Homo sapiens: one gene and its partners. The protein of the gene in region 5 purifies or fractionates together with the protein of the main gene of each other region. This does not show direct contact. Each region holds a gene or a part of one and is shown on either strand. Other genes may lie near its edges. The genes, in order: WWP1, KLK10, PLD2, JPH1, TNFRSF19, PLD1 and CST4.

Region 1 (3,500 bases), on a different chromosome or scaffold from region 5:
AAGATCATTGGTGCCCTTGCAAATTCAGTGTCAGGGGAACTTCCTTGGAGTTGGTTTAAAGGAGAAACTATGAACAGCAATACAGAGACAACCATGCAAGTAGCTTTCCTGTAAAGGGGAGCAATAAAAATGAACTGTGGGCTGGGTGTGATGGCTCACGCCTGTAATCCCAGCACTTTGGGAGGCCAAAGCAGGTGGATCGCCTGAGGTCAGGAGTCCGAGACCAGCCTGGCCAACATGGCGAAACCCCATCTCTACTGAAAATACAAAAATTAGCTGGGTGTGGTGGCGGGTGCCTGTAATCCCAGCTACTCAGGGGGCTGAGGCAGGAGAATCGCTTGAACCCAGGAGGTGGAGGTTGCAGTGAGCTGACATCGCATCATTGCACTCCAGCCTGGGCAACAGGAGCGAAAGTCCGTCTCAAAAAAAAAACAAAAAAATGAACTGCGATTGAACACATTGGTAAAGGGAAGAGTTGTAATTTCTTTTTTTTTTTGCTTTTTTTTTATATCTAGGAGAAATAACAGCTGATAAGAATAATTTTGTAGAGAAATAAAACCTGATAATGCAACACAAAGGTGATAACTGTTGGAGCAATTAAGTAGAAAAGTGGGGGTAGGAATCGAATGTACCAGCAGAGGGACGAGACTTTGATAATAACAATGACAGTTCATCTATAGGAACAGGAGGGAGGAGAGATGGTAGGAGACGGACAGATATGGTGGTACAACTTTGCAAAAGACCTTTTAGGATTGCTTCTATTTTCTTAGTTATGCAAAGACATGACACCTTAGAGTAAGAATGAAGGAGAGATCTGTCAACCGCTTAATTAAGGTATCTTTAAATCTGGAAAAATCATTTCACTGACCATCTCATTGCAGCAGTGTGATGTGGCAGTTAAGAGCACAGAGTCTAGACAGAGACTGACTGTCATCGTTAGAAACCAGCTCCATTACTTGCCTTATAACTTTGCACAGTTAGTTATGCTCCCTATACCTCTCCTCACTTGGTAAAGGGAAAAATAATAGTATCTACCTCAAGGGGTTATTGGAAGATAAAATGAGTTAATACCTATGAAGTACTTAGAACAATCCTCGGCACACAGTAATCACTACATAAATAGTTTACATGCTGCAAATCCATTGTCAAATGAGAGCAAAGACAGCTATACTAAGGTTTCACTTGTGTAGGTTTTCTTGAACCAAAAAGTAAAATGTTTTGCTAAACTTGAGGATAAATTAGAGACTAAATCTCATGTGCTCACTAAGCAATATTTAAAGGAGAACTTCAGGTTTTCACTCACACAGATGACTTCCCATTGCGAGGATCTTTGAATGTTGTTGTTCTTGTGTTATGATCAACAAAGTACCTTACACCTTCACGAGTATATCTAATTTCCCAGCCTTCTGGCAGGGGTTCTTCATTCTGTAAGCTAAAAGATAAAGTTAAAATCACAAGATGAACCTTTTCTAGGTACTAAAAATATCTCATTCAAGGTTGGTTGGTTCTACCTACTGATATATGCAAGACGACTTAAGGCTGCTGTATATACATACCCTTGAGTTCTTGGATCTTCCCACTGGGTTGTTTTTGTGTTATGATTCACAAAGTAAACCCTGTCTGTTGAATCCACTCTTTTTTCTGAAATATAAAGTGAGTATAATATTTAATAACTATTTAGGATCTATATATAAAATAAGGAACACATATAATTATATATAATATATATTATATATATAAAAACATATCAGGGATATATGTATCCCTTATATATTATAGAATATATTATATAGAATATAATATATATTATAGAGAATATAACATATATTATATTATAGAGAATATAATATATATTATATTATAGATAATTATGTAGAATATAATATATATTCTATAATATATAATTCTTTAATATATAATCTATTCTATATATTCTGTATATTATATATATAATACATATATATATCCCTTATAATATACATATATATATCCCTTATAATATATACATATATAATATACATATATATCCCTTATAATATATAATATATTTAATATGGATTATATATTCTATATAGTATACAGAATATATAACATTCTACAGAATATATAATATATAGAATATATAATCCATATTAAATATATTATATATTATAAGGGATATATATATGTTAAGGGACATATATAAGGGAGATATATATATATAAAATAAGGAACATATATATATATATATATATATATATATATATATGGAGAGATATATATCTCCCTTATAGATCATTAGCAAAAACAGCTTACCCCAGCCTGGTGGCAAAGGTCCATAAGGGTCATTTTCTGCAGCTAACATTGAAGCCTGATTGGAGAAAAGATTAGGGAGAGAAATAAAATAACAGTGTTTTAATATGAAAGTAGAAATAAGCCAAGCATGTGGCAGAATCACATTTTATAATAATTTTCTAAAAATATGATAAGGGGTTGGGCGCAGTGGCTCATGCCTGTAATCTCAGCACCTTGGGAGGGCAAGGTGGGAGGATTACTTAAGCCCAGGAGTTCAAGACCAGCCTGGAAGATCCTGTCTCTATAAAAAAAAATTTTTTTTTAATTAGCCAGATGTGTTGGCACATGCCTAAAGTCCCAGCTACTTGGAAGGCTGAAGTGGGAGGATCACTTGAGCCCAGGAGGTGGAGGCTACAGTGAACTGTGATCACACTACTACTGCACTCCAGCCTGCACAACAGAGCGAGAAGCTGTCTCAAAAATATATCTATATTATTATATAGACAGATAGATAGGTCCACATTATAAGGAAATATAGCAATTTCAAGACACAAAGTTCTTTGTTTTTTGAGACAGGATCTTCCTGCTCTATTACCCAGACTGGGGTGCAGTGGCGTGATCTCAGCTCACAGCAGCCTCTGCTTCCCGGGCTCAAGCAATCCTCCCACCTCAGCAACAACCGAGTAGCTAGGACTACAGATATGCGCCACCACACCCGGCTAATATTTGTATTTTTTGTAGAGACAAGGTTTTGCCATGTTTCTGAGGCTGGTCTCGAACTCCTAGGCTCAAGCGATCCACCCGCCTCAGCCTCCCACAGTGCTGGGATTACAGGTGTAAGCCACCGCTCCCAGCCAAGACACTAAGTTCATAAAATGTCACGAAGAGGAGACTATCAACTATCAAATTAATTATTAGTTTTTCGAAAATGATTTAAAAATAATACACTGGCATCAATACTTTACTCTCCCAGTCCTTCCATACTAATCTATAGAGGGAAGATGAAATGGGAGAAGAACATATAGGAAATTATGATGTTTAAATGAGGCAATATTATTTGTTTAAAAATAGAACAGTTATCACAATTTTCTTTAAAACAAATGCCCACTAATAAAACTAACACTCAACTCCAGTATCATTTATAGAAATAAACTTTTAATTAGTATCTTTTATATTTTCATACATACATAAAAACACATTTTTATGTATGCCTCCATTCTTATAAC
Region 2 (2,236 bases), on a different chromosome or scaffold from region 5:
GCTGTGTGACTTTGGGCAAGCCAAGTGCCCTCTCTGAACCTCAGTTTCCTCATCTGCAAAATGGGAACAATGACGTGCCTACCTCTTAGACATGTTGTGAGGAGACTATGATATAACATGTGTATGTAAATCTTCATGGTGATTGTCATGTAAGGCTTAACACAGTGGGTGGTGAGTTCTGACTAAAGGTTACCTGTTGTCGTGATCTGACCACGTCCCGGTGAAAGCGTGTGTCCAGGGAAGAAGTGCACAGGGTAGCCCCCAGTCCCAACCTTCCATCCCCAACCCTTAGGGATGATGGAAGAATCATTTTCCTCACCCTAGTTCCAAGTCCCAGGAAACACCTTTTAACCACTTCCTTCTCATCTCCCACTGTTTCCCACTTCTGGTTCCACCCAACACCAGTTCCTCCGAGCTAGGCTGGCCCTGAGTCATTAGCACCTTCTCTGCCTTCATGAGGCCACTGAACTCAAGGGACCTCACCTTGCTTCTATCCCAGCCTCTAAGACCAGAGGGCCGAGGGGGTAGTGAAGATTGGGAAACCCTTGCCACCTCAACTGCCCAGCTTGTGCCAAGAAACCTCCCTCTGACATTTAGGGGAAAATCTTTGGTTTGTCTGTTATTAATTGGCTGTGAGATTTTCGTCCTGAAAACTTGGGAGGAGGAATTGTTTGATTCTCCCTGAAATTGGGGGAGGGAAGGGGAGTTAATACACAGAATCCAGGTAAGGCTAATAGAAGCTTCAGTGTCCGCTGGGTGTGGTGGCTCACGCCTGTAATCCTAGCACTTTGGGAGGCCGAGGAAAGCAGATCATCTGAGGTCAGGTGTTCGAGACCAGTCTGGCCAAAATGGTGAAATCCCATCTCTACTGAAAATACAAAAACTAGCCAGGCATGGTGGCAGGCACCTATAATCCCATCTACTTGGGAGGCTGAGGCAGAAGAATCACTTGAACCCGGGGGGCAGAGGTTGCAGTGAGCCAAGATTGCACCATTGCACTCCATCCAGCCTGGACAAAAGAGCAAAACTCCATCTCAAAAAAAGAAGAAGTTTGAGTGTCTCAGCTTATCCTGAACTTTGAAGCAGTAACATAAGCTAGCTGAATATAGGCACAACAGAAATTTCCCATTAAGCACGGGGTTTTTGTTTGTTTGTTTGTCCTTTCAGTTACCAATTTATGGAGCATCTATTATGTGCCAGGCCCAGTGCTGGGTGCTGGGGACATACGTAGGGGTGATCACAAGGTCCCCCACCCTGCAGAGCCCACAGGAGGTTGATGTACAAGGTCTGAGCACACAGCTCCCTTCCGTGGCCTCTTTCCCATTCTGCCCCCATTAGCACACGCAGGAAATGTCAGACAGGCGTATCAGCTGGGTTTGTCATCCAAAGACCAGAAGCGAGGTCGGTGGAAACTTGAAAACTCGATTCATTATTAAAGGCAACTCACCCGTCCCTTTAGTCACTCCACAATGTTTATCGAGCCACGTCTTATGCCAGGCCTCAAAGATGAATCAGACCAGGCACTACCCTCAAGGAGCTGCTAGTTAGGTCAGGGAGACAGGCCAGTCTTACATTCCTGTCATTCAGGTCTCCACTCAAAAGTCACCTCCTCCGGGAGGCCTTCCTGAATTGCCCAGGCTATAGGAGTCCACTTTTGGTCATCCAGTCCCGATGCTCTGTTTTTTGTTTGTTTGTTTTTTTTTTTAATAGCACCTATTATACCTGAAATTATCTCATTTGTGTTTACTTGATAATGGTCTATGTCACCCTTCCCCACAAATTCCGTGAGGGCAGTGATTCAGATATTTGTTCACTGTGATTTTCTAAGCTCCTGTATTGTGCCCGGCACACAGAAGTCACCCCCGTTGCTGTGTGAACACATAACACAAATAGATCAGTGCTGTAACAGAAGGGGGTATGGGGTGCACCACACCAAGTCCACAGGCTGTGCCTGAAGGAGTCAGGAAAGGCTTCTCAATGAGGGGACATTTGTGCAGGAGTTTAAAGGATAAGTAGGAGTTCACCAGGTAGAGAAGGAAATGCATTTCAATCACTTTGCTGTATGACTTTGAGCAAATTACTTGAATGCTGTCTCTTCCTCAGTTTTCACTCTGTGAAATGGAGACACCTGCTTAATTAGACTCCCGTGAGAGTTAAATGAGATAGGCTGGGCGCAGTGGCTCACTCCTATAATCCCAGAACTTTAGGAGGCTGAGATGGGTGGAATGCTTGAGCT
Region 3 (3,500 bases), on a different chromosome or scaffold from region 5:
GGTGGTCTGACGTGGAGGGATGGCAGAGTCAGCAGGAGGTGCCAATCTGCCCTGGCTCCCTCCCTACCTCCAGCCCCTATCGGAGGGAATGAACACCTTGGTGAAGTTCCAGCGCTGGATGAAGTGCCGGGCAAGGTCCCGGGCCGGTAGGCCATGGACGACCACCCCAACGTCCCGCCATGGCATCCGAGGGGTCGTCTCCCTGTCAATGAAATCTGGGGGGTCCCAGGAGAGTCAGGGGAGATGTCAGGGCTGGACTCCTTGGGACACTTGGGGCAGGGAGAAAGAGCCTGCCAGAGGGAGGGCTGTACCACCGTTGACCCCTCTCATCCCACTCTCAGTACCAGCCCCAGCTTCTGACCCTGCTCTCAGCTCTCTGGGGCTTTGGCGGGTGGGAGGCTTCACCTTCGAAAGGCCGGTCCAGCTGCACCCAGTCCTTGGTGATAAGATTGCTGTAGTCCTTGCCCAGCCAGAAGAATTGGTTGTGAGAGAGGTCTGGGGTGGCTGGTGAGTCTGGGCGCGGGGTGGGAGGCTGTAGGGGGAACACACCCAAGCCAGGGGCAAGGGGAAGTCATGGGGCTGTACAGAGCCAGGGCCAAAGAGAGGAGCACTGAAAGAGTGAGAGAGACCGAGAGGAAGAATGAAACAGAGGGTCTGATTCCCCAGCCCTCCCCTCCAGTTGCCTTTGACACTTTTAGAGGAATGGGGTGATGGTCAGTGAAAATGGGGAAAGGACTGGGTGGGTGACAGCACTTTTTTTTTTTTTTTTGAGACAGAGTCTCGCTCTGTTGCCCAGGGTGGAGTACAATGGCACAATCTCGGCTCACTGCAACCTCCGCCTCCTGGGTTCAAGTGATTCTCCTGCCTCAGCCTCCCGAGTAGCTTCAATGACAGGCAACTGCCACCATGCCCAGCTAATTTTTTGCATTTTTAGTAGAGACAGGGTTTCACCATGTCGGTCAGGCTGGTCTCGAACTCCAGACCTCAGGTGATCCACCCGCCTTGGCCTCCCAAAGTGCTGGGATTACAGGCATAAGCCATGGCTCCCGGCCAGTTACAGCACTTTCAAAGTGGGTTCTTGGAGTCCCAGAAAGTCTGAGGAACCCTGAGGTTGGCAGGGCCTGGAATGACTGAGGGGGTAAGGCTGGAGCTGGGAAATGGTGTTGATTGAGCTTATCTGAGTTTGGGGGTGCTCAGGAAGGCCTCAGGGGGATTACCTGGGAGGCAGCTGATTCAGAGGAGTCTCCAAGGTCAGTCAGTCGGTAGTGCAGGTCATCCCAGCGGCCATAGGCAAGGTCCAGTCCCCCCAGGAATGCTACCACTTGGTCCACCACCAGGAGCTTCTCATGATGGGCCCACAACGTCACTTGGTCTGGGTGACGCATCACCTGGAGCAGGCATGGAGGGTTCATGAGGGTGGGTTTAGGTGAAGGAAAACAGGAGGTACTGGGAGGGAGAGAGGAAAGATGGAAAGATGAGACCATCAGGGAGCGGGAGCGCTGGGGGCTGGGACAGTGTGGGGAGAAGGGCTGTCATGTGGGAGGGTCTCTGAGGCCGAGAGTCACCTTTATGTTGGGGTGCAGCAGCATCAGCGCCCTCTTGCTATAGCCACTGTTGATGCCCAAGGCCAATTCCACTTCTTTAAACAGCAGAATAGACACACGGACACCCTCCTCCTGGTGGTGAGTTGGGGAATCAGATCCTAGTGCCTCTCCCAGAGTAGCCCCTTTCCACACTCCCAAACCTTTTCCACGTGTGTCCCTCCAGCTTGTCTGGAGATCCTAGAGGCTCTGCCACATATGCCCTGCTTTGCTGCTTGCCACAGACTTAGACTAAATGTCATCTGTGTGCTCACCCACTCACCCATCCACACATCTATCCACCCACCCTTCATCATCCATCCATCCATCTTCCCAAGCATTTACTCATCCCTTTATGTACCGTCTATCATTCATCCATCTACCTGCCTACCCTCCTAGCCCTCCACCTTTCCAACTCATATCCTTCCATCCATCACCCTTTCTGTCCTCTATCCATCCACCTGCCCAGCCACCCTGCATCATCCATGCATCCTTCTTCCTGTCCATCAACACCACACATGCCCCCTCCATGGCAGGTACTGTGCCTTGTAGTGGAACAGTGATATTAACTAGTCCAGTGAGAGAGATAGACATGTATACCCCCAGATAACACAATAAAGTATTATGTATACTGGGAGGGAAGTCTCTGCCAGGTGGAGGGAGCATGAAGAGGAAGTTGTCAGTTCTCCTTAGGGCAGAGGGAGAGGGCGGAGGTGATGTCTGACAGGTGCTGGGCCAGGATGGACACTTTTCCCTCCCCTGAAGCCTCAGACTGCCTAATTCTCCCACACTGCAGCCCTGCTAATCAACCTCCACCCACAGGCAACCCCCTCCCCCTGCGGCCTGACCACTCTCCTCACCGCCTTCCTCTTGAGCATAATGTCCAGTCTCCAGTCATCTGAATGGGCCGGACGCTTCAGGTAAACCTCAGGACTCAACCTGGGATTCAGGGCAGTGGATTAGGGGCAAACGAAGCCCCAGACCACCAGCTGCACCCCCCTTCTCCTCCTAATGCTGATCTGCCCCAGGCTCTATCCTGCCCCATGTTGTTGGGGCCTTTTCCCACTCACCACCAGTCTGTGATGAAAATCTCCTCTTGAGCTCGAAGGATGGCATCTGCCACAGCAGCAAAGTAACCTGCCCCATTCACAAACCTGGGGGGAGGCCAAGCCAAGGAGGTCAGGGGAGTCAGAAGCCAGAAAGCTCTGGAGAGTGAAGACCGGAGGACAGTCGTGGGTCAGAGGTGACAGCAAGGTCAAAGATCAGAAATGATCAGAGAACACAAGTGGTATCAGACACATCAAAATAGTGTTTGCCCATATGCGCTAAATACAAATAAAAATTACAAAAAGACACAATAACCTAATCAACTAAAGAACAGGAGGATTAATACATCATACATAAAGAACACCAATAAATCGACAAGAAAAAGTCACATGAGCCAACTGAAAAATGAGCAAAGAGTAAGAACTGACAGTTCACAGAGAAATTAAAATGGCCAATCGTGGCAAATGTTCAGTTTCACTAGTAAACAACGAAATTAAAATGAAATTACATTTAAAAAATCCATTAGATTGGTAATAATTCAAATCACTGGTAACATTCAATATCAATATTCAATATGCTGGGGAAGTGGGTATTCTCATAGACTATGGGAATATAACTTTTAGGAGACAATTTGGCAGTATCAAAAAATATATATATAGCTTTTTGGAGATGGTGTCCCGCTCTGTCACCCAGGCTGGAGTGCAATGGCATGATCTTGGCTCACTGCAACCTCCGCCTCTTGGGTTCAAGCAATTTTCCTGTCTCAGCCTCCCAAGTAACTGAAATTACAGGCGCCCGCCACCACGCCTGGCTAATTTTTGTATTTTTAGTAGAGACGGGTTTTTGCCATGTTGGCCAGGTTGGTCTTGAACT
Region 4 (3,500 bases), on a different chromosome or scaffold from region 5:
CTCAAAAAATTATCTTTTTTTCCTTTAAGAGATTGTCACTCATATTTAAAACTGTAAGGAATTTTCTGCTAGAAGAGTTACTATGGTTTATGTGAAATCTAAAGCTTCTCTAGCTAGAAACACAAGAGAAGAACAAAGTTTAATTAAGTATTAACAGCAAAGTTTAATTATATATATTTACCTCTTTCGGGGGTGAGGTTCAAACCCAATTTGATGGGGACGCTTTAAATTTTACACAAATTCAAAAGAAAGATTAGATGAACCTCAAAACAAACTTGGATGCAAATCACAGGAATGGCTGAGAAAAAAGTGTAGTCATTTTTCAGAATGGGCTGAGATACCTAATTGGAAAATTCCCCTCTTGTCTACTTGATGGTAAGACGCTAAAGATGCCTCTTCTGACCCTACCAGAGTTGTCATGTTGCAAAACTCTACAAAAATTTCGGGATCACATTGAATGCGTGCCCCTAGGACATGAGTCCATACGCAACCATTGCCCACAGGGGTCACAAAAGTTTCTTGAGGAAAATCTTCCTCAAGAAAGTAATCAATGCCACAGCCTCCCTTCTCCTACCTCTCATACTCGAGTTAACTAATTTCCTGTGTTAGTCTCCATCCCAGGAGATTTTCTGTATTTCTAGGAGATCAATAGCCAGGGTGATCCTGAGGATGGATCAGATCTACTTGAATATTTCTGAACTGCTTATGCTTCAGTTAGCATTGTGTTGAAACAAACATCATAATAGCCAAGGTTTTTTGAGCATTTATTCTGCGCTAGGCACTATGCTAAGAACTTTTAAAGTATTGACTCATTTAATCTTCACAACAACCCTGTGATAGGTACAGATGAGGAAACCAAGGCACAGAGCAGTTAGGAAACTGTCCAGGGTCACACAGCTGGTAAGCAACAGAGCTGGGATGTGAACCGAGGAAGTTCAGCAACAGAGTTCAATTCTGTGAATTTTAAAATTATTCACGAATGTCTAACTTATACAGTGTCTTTCTCTCAAAACTATGTAGTACTCCATTATCTTAAAGGTCATCCACTGACAACATTTATGATGACTGTGCCACTTCCTAACTCTGAGGAGTGGGGACGGCAGCGTTCTGTTACTATTGGGAAGACAATGTTAATTATTAGAATCTTCGCGTGAAGGTGTCAAGTCGGTCTTGAATTTTGCAGAGGCAGTCTAAAGCTCAGGGTAGCTGCGGAGCTGCTGGGGCTTCCCTTCCCCCTTGGGGTGTAGAGGGGTACCCTAAGGACCAACTACTGAGATGGAGGATGCTTGTCTAACTCCAAGAATCTGAGAATTCCGCAAATAAGTAAAACAGATGTTTTTTCTAAATGAGGAGGCTGTGAATTTACCAAACATACGTATACTACTGTTTTACAGAGAGACTCTTTCAGCTAAGAGCTGGGTAATTCAACTTTTTTTTCCCCCTATCACAGCCTAATGTATAGGACGCTGGGGCATACACTTCCCCTTGTAGAAGTCTAGAAGTCAACTAAAGCCCACAAATGGGTACCCAAAGGTATAAAAGGTATGGCCTTGCATTGTTTGAATTTTTCCCTGTGTAAATCAGGCAAACTAACACTGATATATGCGAGGCCTTATTAACCTGGGGATAAACATGCTGAAAGTCAAATGAGAAGTAAGCTATTACATTTAACAAATTCAATAGTGATTATTATAGTTGTAATGTCAAGATACTGTCATATTAAGGTTTAAAATCTTTAAAATGAATGCTTACTGAAGAGTCAGAATCTTAAAGTTAGTCTGTTTTGAAAACAATTTTTCTCCATGCAGGTGGACTCCTAGGAAGTTGGTCCAGTTAATCTGAATAATTTATGTTTAGCTAATTAAAAAGTTGAAAATTTGAAAAAAGAAGAGAACCAGTGTTTTATAGATATTAGCAAAATAAACACACAAGAAATTTTAAGCATAAGTTAACAGAGGAATTTTAATTGTTTAATCCTGTGAGTAAATCAAACAGACAAAAATAAGAAACTGATGGCTGTACTATATTCTTGTTGGCCAAGATATTAATCCACACCATTATGCAAATATGTCTCTATAATTTCTAGTGAATACTAGGTGTGTAACTTTCAACACCTCTGTTCTAAAGGGATGTGATCAGGTCAAGAGGTCATTTTTTAATCAATAATTAGCTTCAGATTTTATAAATACTATAGCATTTGATAAAACACTAATTCCATACATTATTCAAAAAATCTCCTTTTAAAGAAGGTATAAAGATTTTTCAATAACACAGAGCTTTTCTGGCTGAATAATAAATAAATATCTTAAATGCTTAAGACTAATTGATACTAATAACCTGCATCTACCAGAAAACTGAAATTGTAAGAGTTCTCACACTTTGAAAAGACAGAAGACCAAAGAAATTCTCTTGAACTGTTGGAAATTTTCAGTTCTCTTTTGGGAAAGAAAAATGTTCTAGCTGCAAAGCCTGGCTAATTAAAGTCCAAACTACGTATGTATGAGAAGAATTCACAACGGCTAGAGGAGACGTTCTTTTGTGTAAAGATGCTGACCGCTGTGGTGAAAACAGGAGAACTAAGAACTTGTTGGTGCCCTTTTCCTAGAGCTCTGAGAGCGGCTGGCCCTTGGCAGGGGTCATGATTCCTTTCCAGCAATCAGAGAGCAAGCTACCAGGAAGCTCACCAAGACACGCTGTTAAAGCCTTGCTAAAATGTGCTAAGATGCTGTGCTAAGCTGGTCAGGTCTTACCTACCTGAATTACATCTAAAGTGGGGCTGGGTGAACATAGGGGTGGTGGGGGGAATTTCTGCCCAGAGAGCTCTTTGCTGTCTCAAGCTACCAATGTGTTATGTGCTGCTCTAAACAACCCTGTGCTTCTAGAACCTTGGTTAGCCTGGCTGTGATCAAGATGCACAGTCACCCCACACAGCTCGCTGAAAGAAACAAAGGGAAGAAAGAAAGAGAAAACGCTACTTGCAGTACTTACTGAATTGGCTTCTTTTTCCAAAGCAGGGCATGAATCGTTGCTTGCTGGATTCTTTGGTATAGCAAGTTCAGACTTCTTAGCTTTTGGCTCAGCTTTGCTTTCTTTGGCAACTGGTTTTGTCACAGATTTGGAGGGACTCCACTTGTTAGCGGATGGCTTGTGCACCAGTGCTGAGGAAGACTGGCTGGATCCATCGCCGTCCTCCACGTCTACTGGAGGGTGCTGGGGGGCGTTCAGCTTCACGTAGTAGCCGTGATACTGAGAATGCAGCTCCCCGTTACTGGGGTTGGGGATGTGGTGGCGGCCAGAGTACTTGGACTGGGGCACAACCGCTCCTGCCTCCTTCGTGGGAGCCTTTGACATCAAGGGCTTATTGACAATGGCCGTCACCTGCTCATCAGCCACACTCCTTTTGTCTTGGTTGAGTCTCGCCCCTGAGCTGGGGTTTTGCTTCTTCAGGGGCTTTGGGGAGGAAGCAGGAGAGTGGCTGTGTTTGGGACTTGCCTCAGGAG
Region 5 (3,500 bases):
GTACAAATATAGACACAGACCTTCAATCTCTAGAGTTGCAGTGTCCATTATGATAGCCATTAGCCACATGTGGCTACTGAGCATTTGAAGTGTGGCTAGTCTGAATTCAGATGAGCTGTGTCTTTAAAACCACACCGGATTTTAAAATTTTAATACAAAATAGAGAACGCAAAATATGTCATAAATAATTTTTATATTGAATACATATTGAAATGCAATATTTAAGATATATTGGCTAAGTAAAATAGACTAAAGTTAATTTTACCTGTTTCTTCTTCTTCTTCTTCTTCTTTTTTTCTTGAGACAGAGTCTCGCTCTGTCGTCCAGGCTGGAGCGCAGTGGTGCGATCACAGCTCACTGCAGCTTCATAGGCTCAAGGGATCCTCTCAATTCAGCCTCCCAAAGTGCTGGGATTACAGGCATGAGCCACCGCACCTTGCCTCTCTTTTACGTTTTAAATGTGGTTCCTAGACAACCTGAAATGACATGTGAAGCACACATTATACCTCTACCTGGAGTAATCTTCAGTCGAGGGGAGGCTCCTGTGGTGAGCAGCACCTGCCGGGGAAGCAGAGTGAGGGCCCCTCAGCTCACTCAGGGCATCTGCTTGGGAAAGAGAAAATGTAACTGCCCCTCTGTGTAGATTCATGCCCCTTTTAAATCCATTTCTCTCATTATTTTGGGGTTAGTTAAGTAGGATATGCTGTTTAACTGCACTAGATATAGATCTCTGATTTAAATGAGTTTGTTTATCCTGGTACCCTCAGGATAGTTTTAAAATGGTAATTACTATCATCATCATTACAGTGGCTAATGATTCTACAGCACAGCCAGTCCCACACACTTTACATAACACATGAGCCAGTCACTATTATTACCTCCATTTGAACAGATGGCAACTTGAAATTCCAGTCAGTGTCTCAAGGTCACACAGGTAGAGGTTGACCCAGGCCATGGGGTTCAGAATCTGCCCTGAACCACAAAGCAGTACTGCCCTCTAAAATAAGATCTATTTCTTGACTTTCTTAGCACATGACTATGCCGGCCTTTCCATAGTGTAATAACAGTATTAGTCTTTTCTCCAAAACTTAGATGTTTTCCAGTAGTTTAACAGCTAAGGCATTCAGAGATGTTTACTGTCTCAAAAACTGGGGTCTACTGTAAGGTTCTGGATGATCCAACTCCTTGTTTTCCCCTAAAGTTGCCCCAAAAAGCATACATGCATTCAGTCTGCTTAAAAATATGGTGTAATTCCAATTAAGTACAAAACATTAGTTCCCTGCCACATGCCAAGTACTGGGCAACCAGAGGTAAAGATGACAGACCCCCAGCTCACAAAGAATTCTGCTCTGGTGGAGCTGAAGGCAGATTCTAGTAACACAATGTGTTGAGGATTGTGTGTCCGTAGCGCTCTGGGAACAGAGGAGAGGGACACCCTGCACATTGTGGGGTGCCGGGTAAAGGTGTCCCATTAAAGACATCTTCTGGGTGGAGGGGGTGCTTGAGCCATCTTTAAATATCTCATGCCAGTTTTCTCACAGCATGGGAAGGCCACTGGTAAGGGTGCCTGCCAGCTTCGCCATAAACACTGCATCTGCAGTTGTTCAGAGCATGCTGACCCCATTCCTGTGGTTTCAGGTGCCAGCAAGGTCAACCTCGTGAAGATCGCGTCCACGGCCTCCAGCCCACGGGACACGGCGCTGGCTGCCGTTATCTGCAGCGCTCTGGCCACCGTCCTGCTGGCCCTGCTCATCCTCTGTGTCATCTATTGTAAGAGACAGTTTATGGAGAAGAAACCCAGCTGTAAGTTTTGAGCTCATTACATTTCTTAGCATTTAGGGGAAGGGCATTTATTACTATTGTCGTGCAAGTGTTCCACAAGAGACTTGGCTGAGACAAGCACCAGTGAGTTGTGAAAGAACGCAGGGCACAAGAAACACAGGTGATCCCTGAACAGCAGAGGGCTAGGAGAGCAGTTAAGAATCCACACGTCAGTGTTGACTCCCCAAAAACTTAACTACTAATAGCCTATTGTTGACGGGAAGCCTTACTGATAAACAGTTGGTTAATACATCTTGTTTATTATATGTTTCTTTGTTTTTTTGTTTTTTTGGAGACAGAGTCTGGCTCTGTCACCCAGGCTGGAGGGCAGTGGCGTGACTTCAGCTCATGGCAACCTCTGCCTCCCGGATTCAAGTGATTCTCCTGCCTCAGCCTCCGGAGTAGCTGGGACTACAGGCGCCCGCCACCACGCCTGGATAATTTTTGTATTTTTAGTAGAAACGGGGTTTCACCATGTTGGCCAGGCTGGTCTCGAACTCCTGACCTCGTGATCCGCCTGCCTCGGCCTCCCAAAGTGCTGAGATGACAGATGTGAGCCACTGCACCGGCCTATTATATGTATTATGCCCTGTATTCTTACATTAAAGTAAGCTAGAGAAAAGAAAATGTTACTAAGAGAATCATAAGGGAGACAAAATAGATTTACTCTTCATTAAGTGGAAGCGGATCATTGTAAAGGCCTTCATCCTCATCATCTTCATGTTGAGTGGGCTGAGGAGGAGGAGGAGGAGGGTTGGCCTTGGTGTCTCAGCGTGGCAGAGGCTGAAGAAAATCTGTGTATAAGTGACCTGCGCAGTTCAAACCCGTGTTGCTTAAGGGTCATCTGTAGAATTCACTGAGGTTGCACAGCTTTGTAAGGAGACTTACAAGGCTGTGATGTCCCTGCGCCACTAGGCAAAAATAAAAATCATTCTCAGTAATGGCAACATTAGTACCCTACATTTTGAACTTTCTTAACAAATTATTTCATGTTTGTGCTTCCATGTAAGAAGAAGTCATCAAACATTGGAAGGATAGCTGATTTGTTCTTTAAAAATACAAAAGCTAGAATGGCACAGGTCCACTAGAGAGGAGACTGTGTTCCCTGACAGAGTTCTCACCCCTCATTTAGGGTCTCTGCGGTCACAGGACATTCAGTACAACGGCTCTGAGCTGTCGTGTTTTGACAGACCTCAGCTCCACGAATATGCCCACAGAGCCTGCTGCCAGTGCCGCCGTGACTCAGTGCAGACCTGCGGTAAGTTCAGCAGGGAAGTGCCGTTAGGAGGACTGGAGGTACACAGAAGCTGAAGCAGCAAGAATTGGTCCTGGTTTATTCACCTCACAGCGAGGTGGCTGTGTTGAGTCTTCTGGTTAAAACTAATCTTGTTAAATTATTCTCCACCATCTCCTGTTGGTTTGGGTGTTTCGAGTCTCTTAAGCATTAAAAAGGAAATAAGCATCTCGTTAAAATTCTAGAATTTTTCAGCAACTTTTGGGTCATGTTTGTCTTTCTTGTTTTGAGTCAGTTTATTTAAAATCACGGTAACCTTTGGTAGAGTAGGACTTTATATCCTTTGCTGTCTGGTTGATTCAAACCAAACACTAATATGCCTATTTTAAAAATATGTCTATTATAAAAATATATCTATTTTTAGAATTTCTTAAAGAAGAGAGAG
Region 6 (3,500 bases), on a different chromosome or scaffold from region 5:
GCCAGAACTTACTTACCTGTACGTTAGCATGGACAGACCCAGGCACTTGATATCTCAACTCATGGGCTGTTGTTTGAGACTTTGGAAGCAGAAAAGGATAAGAAAGGGACCGATATTTTGATTTCATAATCTAAAATAAAGAAAAAGGATAAAATATTCAAATGAGAAAAAAGATTCATTCTCCCTACTTTGTGATTATAAAAGAAATTCATGCCCAGGTGCAGTGGCTCACGCCTGTAATCCCAGCACTTTGGGAGGCCAAGAAGCGGGGATCACTTGAGGTCAGGAGTTCGAGATCAGCCTGGCCAACACGGTGAAACCCCCATCTCTACTAAAAATACAAAAATTAGCCAAGCATGGTGGCGGGCGCCTGTAATCCCAGCTACTCGGGAGGCTGAGGCAGGAGAATCACTTGAACCTCGGAGGCAGAGGTTGCAGTGAGTCGAGATTTCATCATTGCACTACAGCCTGGGTGACAAGAGTGAATCTCCATCTCAAAAAAAAAAAAAAAAAAAAGAAAAAGAAAAGAAAAGAAATTCAGGTTAATTTGAAAAAGAAAAAGAAAAATGTTAATGGTGGACATTTCTAAGTGAAGGGCTACAGATTATTTGTGTTTGTTTTCTACTTCTCACAGTCCTGTTTTTACCTTTTGTAGGGGAAATATTGTTTTATATTTGTAAAGACAGGTTAAATATAATCTGTAGTTACAGAACTTTATAATTGCAAAAATGAGACTATTGTTTTATAAACTAATTTTTTACTGATTATGTTCTAGATATCTTGTCACAGCAATATAGTGGGATATCATTATTTTTAATAACTTCATAGTAAAATGGTATAAAAGAATCATTTGTTTAATAAATTCCTATTAGTAAGGATTTCTGTTATTTCTAATTTTATTTGAATTATTAGAAGCCATATCAAAATAAATTACCTTATTGGATTATGGCTTTAGTTTGAATACCCGGAAATAGTTTTTCTGGATCAAAGATTGCATACTTTAAAAAAGACTTATTGGTGTTGTACAAATTTATCCTCCCTGGGGTAGCATGTATGAGCACACCACAAAAACCACCCCAAACCTAACTACAGGTATCAGCAGAGACTTTTATCTTTGCCAGTATAGCAGGTTAAAAGTAACACCCCATTTGTTTATTCATCCATCTCCCCTAAATTTTTGTTAAAAAATTTCAATTAGAATGTCCACTAAATTTTTATAATCATTATGTGAATGAAAAACAAAGTTAGACTCTAAGTGGTTGATAAAACTAAATTCTTTTTCCAAACGACCAAGGGGAATCATGACTCATTATCCCTTCAAGTAAATAAAGTGAAACTTTAATAACACCTGAATATGTACTTTTTTTTTTTTTTTTTGAGACAGAGTCTCGCTCTGTTGCCTAGGCTGGAGTACAATGGAGTCCTCTCAGCTCACTGCAAACTCCGCCTCCTGGATTCAAGTGATTTTCCTGCCTCAGCCTCCAGAGCAGTTGAGATTACAGGCACCCACCACCATGCCCAGCTAATTTTTGTATTTTAGTAGAGACAGGTTTTCACCATGTTGGTCAGGCTGGTCTCGAACTCCTGACCTCAGGTGATCCACCAGCCTAGGCCTCCCAAAGTGCCAGGATTACAGTCGTGGGCCACCGTGCCTGGCCTGAATGATACGTACTTAACTTATGAATGTTAGGTTTGAATGTTATGTCAAGTTCTTACAAGTAATGAGGACACAATCTGGATAAAAGGAAAATGGCCCCACCTTCTTAATACTTCTTGGTTTGCTCAGAACCAGCTCTCAGAATCCTGTACCAATATAAACCCAGTGCAATTCCAGTCCCATCCAACTGGATGGGACTTTAAAGCTCAAGCCCTCTCATCTAAACCAGGCTCCTATCCCCCTATAACAGCCCTGCAAATGACTACCGAGCCCAGGCTACTAAATGCTTAGTCAACACTGTGTCCAAGATGTTAACAAGGTTAAAATCAGGACCCACACAGCAGCACCTGTCCCTAGGCACTCTGAATTGTCTATGGTGTGGACATTCGGGAATGTTTCCCTTTTTTTTTGCCCAGATGCCCAGGCACCCGGACATCAATGCAGCCAACAGCAGAGCAGTGACACAGTTGTGGCCACAACAGTCTCTTCTTGCTACCAGCCTCCTCTAAACCTCTTCTCTAGTTAGGCCTGCCTCTCTTCATGTGGATAAATCATGATAGCAACATCCAAGTACTTTTGTGAAGTTCCAGCGCTGGATGAAGTGACGTGCCACATCACGAGCCGCCTTCCCGTGGACTGCAGAGGCAATGTCATGCCAGGGCATCCGGGGCGTGGAGTACCTGTCAATGAAATCTGCCCGGGTGCACCAGGCAAGGATCAGTCATTAACTTCAGTGTTGGGGCAAAGTCTCTCTGACTCCAACTATGAAACTAAAAGGAAACGTGGGTTAGTGCCCACTAGGTATATATTTCTTGGCTTGCATAGAACAACATTTTTATAATCAAGGGAAACAGATTTCACATTCAGGGACATAGTCTCCCAGGCACTTCCCCACATATGTTTCCGTTTCACTTAGGATTAGATAATCACTAGACATGGCAAGATGTGAGTTGGTACAAATTATCTAAGGCTGTGTATTTGATATTATATTTTTTATTTTTTATCCTGTTGAAACAATGGCAGGCAATGCCATCTCTATCTCCTCTTAAACATATAAACCCAGTGATAACCTGAAAATATGCCATTCTAACGCTGGAAATGCAGGAAATAAGCAGAATAGAAGATGATCAAAGGGAGCCTACCATTTCCTGAAAAATTACTGATTATTGCCCCCAAAATATGCCTATAAAAATCTGGATTTTTCAGACAGTTCAGCTCTATTTCATGTTCTTTTCTTATTATAACTGAAAAAAAAGTCCTTAAGCACATGCTAATGACTAAATCTAGTCTCCAAAGTTTTAAAAAATTTTCAAAAATCAACGGAAGCAAAACAAAAGGCATTTAGATCATGCACATGTATACTTGCTGAGATGTTCAAAGGTAAAAGACAAAATATAACCAGCACCCCACCATTATGATACTCACCAGCAAAAGGTTTATCAAGTTGAACCCAGTCTTTGAAGACGAAATTGCAGTAGTCCTTTCCATGCCAGAATCTGGTTTCCCCATGCAGCTCTCCCACACCTGTCTGTAAACTACGGATGGACCCGGTATCTGTGAATGCAGCAAGACCCCCTCAGAGACTGTGGTTCAGGTGAGTCCCAGAAAGGGAGGCTCAACTCTCATTTATTAAACACCTAAAAGCTTCTTAATTTCTTAAGACACAACTAGGGTGGCATCTGTCCATTCTATTACAGGCTGTGGGCTAACAAGGTTTTACAGTCCTTACAAGTTTACTTTTAGTGGGCAGTTAGGGCTACAACAAGATTCATCATTAAACAATGAAATTTGACCTTCTCAGGCAGTTGAGTAACTTATTTCCACCACCTACCAGATCACTGGA
Region 7 (4,235 bases), on a different chromosome or scaffold from region 5:
AGCCTGGGCAAGGCCTCGGGAGCCCCAAGGGTGCAGGACATGGGGAGGTGGCTCAGTTCCCCCAGCTCCTTCCACCTCCAGCACCCAGGCCAGCACTAAGAGGGGCCAGAGGGAAGAACCCAGGGCAGGGCAACTCCCCCTCAAAGAGCTGGGGCATGGGTCAAGGGCAACAAGGGGAGTGCCGCTCTCCCCTGAGTGGAGACCTCACAAGAACCAGCAGGTTCTTGGAGAGGCTGGTGTTGGGTGAGCCGGGCAGGTCCAGGGCTTCCCAGCTAACAGGCCTCTAGGTCCCACTAATCTGATTGTGGCTTTGGCTGCATGCAGGTGCCTGAGGCTGGGATTAGACAGATCCCCTTCTCCCTGCCCAGCACCCAGCCCCGCAGGTGATTCTTCCTGTCCAACAGGCAACACCCCAAAGCAGGCAGTTGACCTTCTAGTAACCATTCCCAAGCTAAAGCCTTCCTAGCAAATCAAACACATCACCCCCTCCCTCACCACCCCATCTGCACACACATAGGCAACTACGTAAACTCACTTGGACCCCTCATCCCCATGGATCTATGTACAAACCCCCATACTTCCGCCACACACCCACACACAGGCACACATGCTTCCATACACCTACCCGCACACACTGGCACATGTGTGTACACACGTGCACCTTTCCACATGCACACCTACATGCACACCCCCCCATAAGTACATGAACACGTACACATCCATGCATACACGGCTCCCCACATACCCACCTGCACACACACACCGTCCAAACATGGGTAGGACAGAGGCTGACACATACGCACCCCTCTGCAGTGCATGACTGGCCCGGGACCCGCATCAGGAACGTACCTTCTGCAGTTCTGGCTGTTCATGGAAGGCACAGGTGTCCAAGTTGGGCTGGGACTTGGTACATATGGTGCGGCCCACCTCTACGTCGAAGAAGTAATTCACCCCCCCAAAGGTCTGCACACAGGAGAAAACAGGAAGCACGGACAGCGCCCCCATCAGTTCATGCACTCACAGGCACTTCACTGTGGCTGAGTCACTGGACTTGCTTGGGGGCTTCGTGAGCTGCCCACATGTCAACACAAGGCACACAAGCCCCCTCTTCCTGTCAGCTGGCAGGGTGCTGAGCCTCATGCCCGCTCTTAAACATCGTTTTCTCTGTGCTGGGTAAGAGGATTCATTGAATTCTGCTACCTGTGGCTCAGGGGTGAGGGAACACTGACTCTTTTCTAGGAAGGCTGTCTGATGACAAAATTTCAGCTAACTCACGAAAATCTTATTCCCTCCATTTAACCTAGATTTATTACTTCACTTAGAGTAGGAAATGAGATGCTTCACACACACAGATATTTTGGGTCAATGGGGCCGCCCAGATGCCACCATTTCAAGTGTGAGGTTCAAGATACGTTTCTCAAGTCAGCAGCACACCTGAGTGTCTTACAATTGCAGATTATAATTGAACCCTTTCCCTGCACAGGGCCTCTCCCAGACACTACGTGGCAGAGCTGTGGAGAAACCTGGGATGAGGGACTCTTTGGAACCAGGAGGAACTGCTGAGATCCCTCGAGTATCAGTTTACCCATGTATAAAATAGGCTTCCAGGTCTGATGGTCTGCAATGCCCTGTGCTTCACTCCAAGTTACTGTCATGCTTAAGAGGGAGATGCAGGCCAGCGGGGACCATGGCACCAGGGAGTGCACCTCCTGTGCAGGGTGAGGGCTCCAGCTGACAGCTGTAGGAGGAGAAACGGGACTGGTCTGGATTCCTTTGAATTTCTAGAAGGTGGAGGAGCTCTAAAGGCTGTGTCACTATTTGCTGCTCTGCCATGGGATGCAGGTCAAGCTGGGCCCAGTTGCCCTGCTGAAGCTCACTCTGGACCTAACCCCTCCTCTGCTCTGCTGGGTGACTGCTGTCCTCATCTGGCTGAGGTCTAACTCTGCATCAGCTCGTAGAGGCAGGGCCAGGCGTGCTCCACCCCAGCAGGGACTCAGCCATCCTGGCCTGCAGGGGTGGGTCAGCCTGCCTGAGGGTGAAGGCCACTAGCCCTAAGGGGCTGTGCCCAAGGGCATGACTTGGGGAAGGAAGAAGGGCTCTGCAGAACAGGGAGCCAGGTTCCCATGTGGCCCCTGAGGAGAGGACTCAGGGAGGAGAATGAGCCTCACCGCCTGGATCTCATCCTGAGCAGCATCAAGCCCACCCAGAGTCAGCACAGTCTCCATCCACACCTGCTGGACGCTGGGAAATGCCACGGTCATGGTACAGACACAGCAGCTGCTGCAGGTTAAAGGAAGCTGCAGCACTTCCTTTAACTGTCTGCAGTGCATGGACCGGGAGCATGCTTAGGCATGAAGGGCATCAGCGGAGAGTCAGAGAAAGCTGAATGAATCTGAGCATTAGATCATGAATGTGTCAGTGTTGATTTGCTTGGAATGCTCTTGGGGGTCCGGCAACAAACCAGGCTAGGGCTCAGGACCCCTCGGGTGGAGGCAGCACCCACCTGCTCCCTGGCTCGCAGCACCTGCAGCGGGCGTCTGTAGTACTCATCTTCGGTGGCCTTGTTGTACTCGCTGATGGCGAAGTGAAGGGCACGCTGTACCCACTCATCATTGAGGTCTGCATCATAGATGCCACCTGGGATTATCCTATTCTCCTCCTTGGAGCTCGAGGCCAGAGCCCCAGCCAGGGTAGCCATCAGGAGTAGCAGGGTACACAGAGGCCGGGCCATGGTCTCCTCAGAGGCAGAGCACAAAGCTGGAGCTGCAGGAGAGGAGGGTGAGAGCCCGAGGCAGGGAGCCCAGACCAGCAGGCAGGTGTGCATTTATCCTGCTTTGGCAGCCCAGCCCCACCCACCTCCATGCCCTGCCCCTGACTCCTCCTCCTCTTTCTGCCCATCCCCTCTTTCTCCATCTCTCTTTTCACTCCCCCACCACTACAAGCTCCCTCCCTGCCTAAGTTCCCCCTGCCCCTCCCAGGCCTCCTCCTCCATCTCCCCCTCCTCCCCACTCCAGTCCTCACTGCAGCCTCCCTGAGCCATGCCTCTCTTCCCCAGTGCTCCCAAGCTTGAGTCACCCAGGTCTCCACAGAGGTGACACTGGTCCTTTGACTGTGAAAGCAATGTGACTTCCTGTTTGCTCAGAAAGGGGAAAAATACAGGGCTTGGCCTCCCGGGGTCTTCAGATATCAGAGGCTTCCAGGAGCACTTGGTCACGGTCTCTGAATCTCTGGAACAGAGAGGTTATTTCAGAAGGTTCCAGAAGACCCTGTCCACACCCTAATATGGAGAATTTCTTTGCCAAATTTAAGGGAATTAACCTTTTTGGAAAAGGTCACTGGCTTCTGTTTTCATAACTCATTATTCAATAAACAAACCTATCACCAGTTACTGCCCATGCCAGGAGGTCTAGGGCTTGAAGACGGAACCTGGATGATGAGCCATAGAGGTGACATTGCAGAGCTGCTGCCCACAGAGATGTGACATGAACCCACAAGCATTTGAAAATTTCTAGTAGATGCATTTTAAAAGATGAGAATAAATGGGTGAAAGTAATGTTTAAAATATTTATTTAACCTAATATAGCCACAATATTATTTCAGCTAACGGGAACAATTATTAATGAGATCGTTTATGTGTGTTTTTTTTTTTTGGTTTTGTAAATCTTTGAAATTCCCTGTGTATTTTTTACACTTAGCCCAGGAATCATTTTGGACTGGCCCCATTTCAAGTGTCCTGTGGCACATGTGGCTGGTGGCTGTGGAACTGCACAGTAAATTCCTACACAGTGTGTGTAGAGGATGGTAGGTTACGATCAACAATTAGGATCAGGGAGTTATACTCACTCTGTTGGAAGTGAAATAGAACAGGGGCTAGAGAGAGACCACTGGACCCTGGTCAGGGTGGTCTCTATGAGACTGGAGAGGTTGAGCAGCCCCAGGCAGCGGGGAACAGCCAGTGCAAAGGCCCTGAGGTGGGGTTGGGACATGCCTGCTCCAGGAAGAGGAAGCTCCTGGAGGGGATGTGAGCAAGGGAGGAAACCACCTGGAGTCTCACGGTAACTGTGGGTGAGGACCGGTGGAAGGTGCACGGAGACCCCTGTGAGGCAGTGGGGGTGTCAGGAGAGGGAGCAGCAGCCACGGGATGAATGTGGGAACCCACAGGCCTCTCTTGCTTCTCTCCTAGGCAGCCATGCTTCAGGCTCCTTTCCTCTGTGCACTCCTTGGAAGACTCACGT

Evidence for each region.
Region 1: the proteins of TNFRSF19 (region 5) and WWP1 purify together in Homo sapiens (affinity purification with mass spectrometry; 2 studies listed by BioGRID and IntAct, with this or other methods). This does not show direct contact.
Region 2: the proteins of TNFRSF19 (region 5) and KLK10 purify together in Homo sapiens (affinity purification with mass spectrometry; 2 studies listed by BioGRID and IntAct, with this or other methods). This does not show direct contact.
Region 3: the proteins of TNFRSF19 (region 5) and PLD2 purify together in Homo sapiens (affinity purification with mass spectrometry; 2 studies listed by BioGRID and IntAct, with this or other methods). This does not show direct contact.
Region 4: the proteins of TNFRSF19 (region 5) and JPH1 purify together in Homo sapiens (affinity purification with mass spectrometry; 2 studies listed by BioGRID and IntAct, with this or other methods). This does not show direct contact.
Region 6: the proteins of TNFRSF19 (region 5) and PLD1 purify together in Homo sapiens (affinity purification with mass spectrometry; 2 studies listed by BioGRID and IntAct, with this or other methods). This does not show direct contact.
Region 7: the proteins of TNFRSF19 (region 5) and CST4 purify together in Homo sapiens (affinity purification with mass spectrometry; 2 studies listed by BioGRID and IntAct, with this or other methods). This does not show direct contact.

The regions. Positions count from the first base shown.
Region 1 is NC_000008.11:86,429,547-86,433,046, reverse strand, and holds part of WWP1 (NEDD4-like E3 ubiquitin-protein ligase WWP1), read right to left. Parts: intron 2,351-3,500; coding exon 2,296-2,350; intron 1,642-2,295; coding exon 1,557-1,641; intron 1,433-1,556; coding exon 1,304-1,432; intron 1-1,303. UniProt on the Homo sapiens protein: E3 ubiquitin-protein ligase which accepts ubiquitin from an E2 ubiquitin-conjugating enzyme in the form of a thioester and then directly transfers the ubiquitin to targeted substrates.
Region 2 is NC_000019.10:51,012,239-51,014,474, reverse strand, and holds the end of KLK10 (kallikrein-10 preproprotein), read left to right. Parts: 3' UTR 1-1,736; downstream 1,737-2,236. UniProt on the Homo sapiens protein: Has a tumor-suppressor role for NES1 in breast and prostate cancer.
Region 3 is NC_000017.11:4,813,652-4,817,151, reverse strand, and holds part of PLD2 (phospholipase D2), read right to left. Parts: intron 2,735-3,500; coding exon 2,651-2,734; intron 2,520-2,650; coding exon 2,441-2,519; intron 1,677-2,440; coding exon 1,566-1,676; intron 1,389-1,565; coding exon 1,218-1,388; intron 611-1,217; coding exon of another isoform or gene 572-610; exon of another isoform or gene 533-571; coding exon 406-532; intron 216-405; coding exon 97-215; intron 77-96; coding exon of another isoform or gene 7-76; coding exon 1-6.
Region 4 is NC_000008.11:74,241,541-74,245,040, forward strand, and holds part of JPH1 (junctophilin-1), read right to left. Parts: coding exon 2,989-3,500; intron 1-2,988. UniProt on the Homo sapiens protein: Junctophilins contribute to the formation of junctional membrane complexes (JMCs) which link the plasma membrane with the endoplasmic or sarcoplasmic reticulum in excitable cells.
Region 5 is NC_000013.11:23,657,412-23,660,911, forward strand, and holds part of TNFRSF19 (tumor necrosis factor receptor superfamily member 19 isoform 2 precursor), read left to right. Parts: intron 1-1,638; coding exon 1,639-1,803; intron 1,804-2,953; coding exon 2,954-3,079; intron 3,080-3,500. UniProt on the Homo sapiens protein: Can mediate activation of JNK and NF-kappa-B. May promote caspase-independent cell death.
Region 6 is NC_000003.12:171,674,484-171,677,983, forward strand, and holds part of PLD1 (phospholipase D1), read right to left. Parts: intron 3,212-3,500; coding exon 3,083-3,211; intron 2,351-3,082; coding exon 2,232-2,350; intron 131-2,231; coding exon 17-130; intron 1-16. UniProt on the Homo sapiens protein: Function as phospholipase selective for phosphatidylcholine. Implicated as a critical step in numerous cellular pathways, including signal transduction, membrane trafficking, and the regulation of mitosis.
Region 7 is NC_000020.11:23,686,239-23,690,473, forward strand, and holds the start of CST4 (cystatin-S precursor), read right to left. Parts: upstream 2,801-4,235; 5' UTR 2,732-2,800; coding exon 2,504-2,731; intron 964-2,503; coding exon 850-963; intron 1-849. UniProt on the Homo sapiens protein: This protein strongly inhibits papain and ficin, partially inhibits stem bromelain and bovine cathepsin C, but does not inhibit porcine cathepsin B or clostripain. Papain is inhibited non-competitively.